2 linked regions of the Homo sapiens genome follow. The protein of the gene in region 2 purifies or fractionates together with the protein of the main gene of each other region. This does not show direct contact. Each region holds a gene or a part of one and is shown on either strand. Other genes may lie near its edges.

Region 1 (3,655 bases), on a different chromosome or scaffold from region 2:
CGGGTGGATCACAAGGTCAGAAGTTCAAGACCAGCCTTGCCAAGATGGTGAAACCCCGTCTCTACTAAAAATACAAAAAAATTAGCCAGCGGTGGTGGTGGTGCCTGTAATCCCAGCTACTCGGGAGGCTGAGGCAGAGAATTGCTTGAACCCAGAAGGCAGAGGTTGCAGTGAGCCAAGATCGTGCCACCGCACTCCAGCCTGGGTGACAGAGTGAAACTCCGTCTCAAAAAATAAAATAAAATAAAATGGAATGAAAAGGACTTGCCTAATGTTCCCTCCCTTTCCTCACACCTCCAAGTGCTGCTCACTCTGGCTTCTGTGCTCCCTGGAAATGAAGATTCAAAATGCCACACCACTTACCCTTTCCGGAGGTGACATCAAACACCACTCCCTTCACTGCCAAGTAGATGGGCTGATCTTCCTAGAAAGCAGGGGAGAAGCTGTGAAGAGGAAGGGAAGAGCCAGCTCTTCCAGTGCAACTTAGTAAAATCTTCTCCCATCACAAGCTGAGCAAAGAGCAGTGGGTCAAGTCCCAAAGGCTTTCTGTTAAGCCTGGTCCTTGGCGAGCTTGCCACCTGCCTGGGCAGCGTCATGCCCGCACACAGAAATTTGGAAAAGTCATAAAGTCTCATGACAAGAATGTGGCAATTCTCTCCTTTATAGAGAAAATCAGGGGCCAGGCACAGTGACTCACGCCTGTAATCCCAGCACTGTGGGAGGCCAAGGCGGGCGGATCACCTGAGGTCAGGGGTTCAAGACCAGCCTGGCCAATATGGTGAAACCCTATCTCTACTAAAAATACAAAAATTAGCCGGGCATGGTGGCACATGCCTGTAATCCCAGCTGCTCGCGAGTCTGAGGCTGGAGAATTGCTTGAACCCTGGAGGCAGAGGTCGTAGTGAACCAAGATCATGCCACTGCACCCCAGCCTGGGTGACACAGTGAGACTCCGTCTCAAAAAAAAGAAAATCAGGAACAGAAGCAACTTCATGGAGATGAAAATTCAAAAGAATAGTAAATGATGAATTACTTATCAGTCCAAATTTCCTTTCCTCTTCATCAATAGACATACACGGATGTGACTGATATGAGCAATCTATTTTATATTTTGCTTCTTACAGGTAACATTCCCTCATATAAACATTTCCACCAAAATGACTGTCATTTAAACAGCTCCATGGGGCCCCATCTTTTTTTTTGAGACAGAGTTTCACTCATGCTGCCCAGGCTGGAGTGCAATGGCGCAATGTCAGCTCACTGCAACCTCCACCTTCCGGGTTCATGTGATTCTCCTGACTCAGCCTCCTGAGTAGCTGGGATTACAGGCACCCGCCACCACGCCCCGCTAATTTTTTGTCTTTTTAGTAGAGATGGGGTTTCATCATGTTGGCCAGGCTGGTCTCGAACTCCTGACCTCAGGTGATCCACCCACCTAGGCCTCCCAAAGTGCTGGGATTACCGACGTGAGCCACCATGCCCGGCGTAGGGCCCCATCTTATATTAGTGATATTGTCTACCTATTTGTTTAGCTAGCTTTCTATTTTGGGTATTTGGGTGGTTTCCAATCCTTAGAACTATAAATGGCAGCATTATGAATACATGTTTCTATCAATTACTTTCTAATTTGGTGACTTATTTCATTGAGGCCTTTATTTAAAAATTTCTCTCCACCCAGTGAATGCATAGGAAAGTGCCCTATTTCAATATATGGAATTCCTGGGCCTAAGTATATGAAAACTTAATCACTGTTTATATTTTATTAGTTTGTCCTGTAACAACATTTATAGTGCTAGAGATATGTAAGCAATGCTGTTTCCCCACCGTTCTACTAACAATGGGCTTTACACTTTTTTTTGGCTCTATTAGCAGGCATAAAATGTTACCTCAGAATTTCCCCACCAAGAAAGAATTACACAAAAAAGGATGGCATGACTTTTCTAGCTTCCATCAAGTTGGGCTCAGGCTGGGACGATGGGTACAGTCCCAAGACACCCAAGACAAGATCTCTCCTTTGTCTCAGTGCCATCAGAGGTGCAGGGGCATCAGCCAGGTGGCTCACAGCCCAGGCGAGGGTGGGAGTCGCTGCTGGGTCCATAGGAATCTCAGGCTCTGCAAGCACCTGCTGCTTGGCCTTCTCTTTGGGGTGGGCCTTAGTGTTCTTGCGCTTGTGCAGCTTATGGTGAAGGGTTTTCATGATCCCATTTAACAGACAGAGGAGCTACTGAGGCTCAGAGAAGCTAAGCAACTTGCCCAAGGAAACACACCTCACTGCCTCATAACCACTCAGGCCTGCTTCTCTGCCTGTCATATGAGGGTAACGCCCACTTGCCTCGGGAATGCTGAGGAAAAGAGTGTACGTAATACCTAGCAGGCACGACACAGGAGCTCAGCAGAGGGCTGCCTTTTATTACTCCAAACCGGCTCCTAAAGACAGGCCCTAGAGGACTGCCATTGACTCTGTGGACACTTGCTCCACCTCATCTAACACGGGTCATTTGAAACGGCCTGGATTTCCAAGCCAGCAGACGGCATTTTTCTTTGTGATGATTTACCGCCTTTCCTTTACCAGGTTTCCTTATTCCTCAGCTTTGATTATTTATCAAGTGGGATTATGTATTTATATCAATTTTAAAAATATATTACAGCTATCATTTAACCCCAGTATTTTGTCATATCTTCCATTCTGTGGCTTTCTCCTTGATACTTCTTTTCTTTTTCCTTTTTTTTTTTTTTTGAGACAGAGTCTTACTCTGTCACCCAGACTGGAGTGCAGTGGTACAATATCGGCTCACTGCAACCTCCACCTCCCCAGTTCAAGCGATTCTCCTGCCTCAGTCTCCTGAGTAGCTGGGATTACAGGCACACGCCACCATACCCAGATAATTTTTGTATTTTTAGCAGAGACAGGGTTTCACCATGTTGGCCAGGCTGGTCTCAAACTCCTAACCTCAAGTGATCTGCCCGCCTCGGCCTCCCAAAGGGCTGGGATTACAGGCATAAGCCACCATGCCCAGCCGACACTTATTTTCTATGGGCAAACAGCCATATAAATATAACATTCACATACATAAGATAAACAAAAACATGCATCTTATCACTAACACTCTTTTCTTTTTTTGTGGGGGGGGGACGGAGTCTAGCTCGGTTGCCCAGGCTGGAGTGCAGTGGCACAATCTCGGCTCACTGCAACCTCTGCCTCCCAGGTTCAAGCTATTCTCCTGCCTCAGCCTCCAGGGTAGCTGGGATTACAGACGTGTGTCACCACGCCTGGCCAATTTTTTTTTTTTTTTTTTTTTTGTATATTTAGTAGAGACAGGTTTCACCATGTTGGCCAGGCTGGTCTAGAACTCCTGACCTCAGGTAATCTGCCTGCCTTGACCTCTCAATGTGTTGGGATTATAGGCATGAGGCAACACGCCCGGCAAACAATCTTTTTTTTTTATGAGAAGGAGTTTCACTCTTGTTGCCCAGGCTGGAGTGCAATGTCATGATCTTGGCTCATCGCAACCTCCGCCTCCCGGGTTCAAGCATTTCTCCTGCCTCAGTGTCCCGAGTAGCTGGGATTACAGACGTGTGCCACCATGCTTGGCTAATTTTTTTTTTTTTTGTATTTTTAGTAGAGATGGGGTTTCTCCATGTTGGTCAGGCTGGT
Region 2 (3,655 bases):
ATCTCCTTAGAGATTACTTATGTGATGGTGATGAGAATGTTGGTAGAAATAAGAGCAATAAAGGCAATTCTGATGAGATCTCAGATGGAAAAGAGGAATAAGGTATTGGAAAGTGGAGTAAGGACCAGCCTTGTTATGAAGTGGCAAGGAATTTGGTTGAATTGTGTCTACACCCTAGGCTTTATGGAAGGCAGAATGTAAGAGCAATAAACTACGATATTTGATGGAAGAAATTTCTAAGCAAAATATTAACTGCATACAGGAAAATAAGAGAGAAATGACTTAAAGATAAAATTTATAATTAAAAAGGAAACAGAATTTAGGGATTTGAAGGATTCTCATCCTGGCCATGTGGTAGAGAATGAAAGAACATTTTCAGGAGAGAAGACCAAGGGTGTGGGCAAGCAACCAGTTGATAAGGAGATCAGTAGGGATAGAAGGAAGCCAGAGGCTGTTCATTAGGACAATGGAAGAATGACTCTGAAGGCATTTTGGAAATTACTGGTGCTGTCCCTCCCATCACAGGCACAGGGTGCCATGACCTCGGAGAAGGAAATACAGTCATGCCCCACATATAGACCTTTTCACCAAGGAAGGAGCACATATACAAAGGTAGTCCTATAAGATTATAATGGAACTGAAAAATTCTTATTGCCCAGTGGTATCATAACCATTGAACATCATAACTCAATGTGTTGCTCATCTGTTTTTGATGATGATGGTATAAACCTACTGGCTGCTAGTCATATAAAAATATAGCACACACAATTATGTATAATACATAATACCTTCTAGTGGGACAAGATGTGGGTGTGGAAGACCGTGATATTGATGACCCTGACTTTGTGTAGACCTAGGTTAATGTGTGTGTTTGCATCTTTGTTTTTAACAAATAAGTTTAAAAAGTAAAAAAAAAAACTAAAAAATTTTAAAAATAGAAAAAAGCTTGTAGAATGAGAATATAAAGAAAATATTTTTGTACACCTATACAATATGTTTGTGTTTTAAGCCAAGTGTTATTACAAGAGTCAAAAAATTTTTAAAATTAGAAAGTTTATAAAGTAAAACTGTTATAGTAAGCTAAGTATAATTGATTACTGAAGAAATAAATTTCTTTTTATAAATTTAGAGTAGCCTAAGTGAACAATGTTTGTAAAGTCTACAGTGTGTACAGTGATGTCCTAGGCCTTCACATTTACTCACCACTCACTCACCCAGAGCAACTGTCAGTCCTGGAAGCTCTTGTATGTGCCCTATACAGGTATGCCACGTTTTGTCTTTTAGACTGTACTTTTACTGTACCTTTTCTATGTTTAGGTATGTTTAGATACACAAATACTAACCATTGTTACAATTGCCTATAGTACTAAGCACAGTAACATGCTGTACAGGTTTACAGCTTAGGAACAATAGGGTTTACCATATAGCCTAGGTCTGTAGTAGGCTATAGCGTCTAGGGTTGTGTAAGTACACTCTATGCTGTTTGCACAATGACAGAATTGCCTAATGACACTTCTTTTCTCTGAAAATACCCGTCATTAAGTGACGTATGACTGTATATCAAAAGAGAGAACTAGTGTGCCCTCTGGATCTTGGAGTTCACTTCTCAGGGCTGCCTGAAGTCTCTGCTTGCCACATTTCATTACAGTGCTTCTTGCTCACCCCACCTGTGGCTCAACGGTGCTCAGGTGGGCCGGGTGCGGTGGCTGACGCCTGTAATCCCAGCACTTTGGGAGGCCGAGGCTGGTGGATCAGAAGGTCAGGAGATCGAGACCATCCTGGCTAACACGGTGGAACCCCGTCTCTACTAAAAATACAAAATAGCCAGGCGTGGTGGCGGGCGCCTGTAGTCCCAGGTACTCGGGAGGCTGAGGCAGGAGAATGGCATGAACCCGGGAGGCGGAGCTTGCAGTGAGTCGAGATCGCGCCACTGCACTGTAGCCTGGGCGACAGGGAGAGACTCTGTCTCAAAAAAAAAAAAGAGGGGTGCTCTGGTGTGGCTCAGGCCACAGCTTTGGAATGTGCAAGCAGCAAATCTTGGTGGCATCCATGTGGTGTTAAGTCTACAGACATGCAGAGTACACGACTTGTGGAGGCAGGCTGGGTGCGGTGGCTCATGCCTGTAATCCCAGCACTTTGGGAGGCCAAGGCAGGCGGATCACGAGGTCAGGAGATCGAGACCATCCTGGCTAACACTGTGAAACACCGTCTCTACTAAAAATACAAAAAATTAGCCAGGCATGGTGGCATGCGCCTGTAGTCCCAGCTACTCGGGAGGCTGAGGCAGCAGAATCGCTTGAACCCACGAGGTGGAGGTTGCAGTGAGCCAAGATCGCACCACTGCACTCCAGCCTGGGTGACAGAGTAAGACTCCATCTCAAAAAATAATAATATGAGGCAGGAGAATGGCGTGCACCCCGGGGGGCCGAGCCTGCAGTGAGCTGAGATCGCGCCACTGCAAGCCAACCTGCACTCCAACTCCATCTCAAAAAAAATAAAAATTAAAAATAATAATAATAATAATAATAATAACTGTGGATGCATGGCTTTCTCCAGCTAGATTCCAAAGAATGTCATAGACAGCCTGATGGCCCAGGCAGACACGTGTTGCAAGGGTGGAGCAACCCAGAGGGCCCTTACTAGGGCAGTGTGTGGCATAACTTTAGGGTAGGAGCTACCGCAGAGAGTCTCCTAGAGCAATGCCTAGTAAAGCCTAAGGAGTGGGCTCACACCAACACCCCAGAACTCTAGACCTACCAGCATGAAATACTAGCCAGGAGAGCCACAGGCACCTGACACCAACCTGTGAGAGCTGCTGCATGGGTAGCACCAAACAAAGCTGTAGGGGTAGGCCTGCCTACCTGAGGCCTTGGGGGCCCAACTGCTGCTCCAGTGTTCCCAGATGGTAGGATGTGGAGTCAAGGAAGATTACTCTGGAGCCTTAAGATTTAGTGTTGTTTGCCCTGTTGGGTTTTGGATTGACTTAAGACTATCCCTTTCTTCTTGCCTATTTGTGTCTTTTGGAATGGGAATGTCTATCCTTTGCCTATTCCACCATTGTATTTTGGAAGTAAGTAACTTGTTTGATTTCACAGGCTTACAGCTAGAGGGAAGTGTCCCTCAAGATGAATCCTGCCTTGAATCTCATCCATATCTGATTCAGATGAGACTGTGTACATTGAACTTCTGAGCTGATGCTGGAAAGTTATGACTTTTGGGGCTATTGCATGACATGAATGTGTCTTTTATGTGAGAAGAACATGAATTTGGGGAGCCAGGGTGGAATGCTGTGGTTTAAATGTGTCCCCCAGAAAGCACGTGTTGAAAATCCCCAGTGTAACAGTGTTGGGAGATGAGGCCTAATGGGAGGCATTTAGGTCATGAGGGCACCATCCCCATGAATGATTAATGCCATTATAAAAGGGTTTGAGGCTGTGAGTTCACTCTTTTGCTCTCTTGTGCACACATGCTCTTTTGCCCTTTTATGCTTCTATCATGGGATGATGCAGCAGGAAGGTCCTTGCCATATGCAGCCCCCCAATCTTGGCCTTACTAGCCTCTAGAATTGTGAGCCCGATAAATTTCTGTTCATTACAAATTACCCAGTCTGAAGTGTTCTGTTATAGCAGCACAAAATGGACTAAGACACTATTAA

What was found.
Region 1: the proteins of PANK1 (region 2) and NENF fractionate together in Homo sapiens (co-fractionation; one large-scale study listed by BioGRID). This does not show direct contact.

What each region holds. Positions count from the first base shown.
Region 1 is NC_000001.11:212,439,334-212,442,988, reverse strand, and holds part of NENF (neudesin precursor), read right to left. Parts: intron 425-3,655; coding exon 364-424; intron 1-363. UniProt on the Homo sapiens protein: Acts as a neurotrophic factor in postnatal mature neurons enhancing neuronal survival. Promotes cell proliferation and neurogenesis in undifferentiated neural progenitor cells at the embryonic stage and inhibits differentiation of astrocytes.
Region 2 is NC_000010.11:89,635,194-89,638,848, reverse strand, and holds part of PANK1 (pantothenate kinase 1), read left to right. Parts: intron 1-3,655.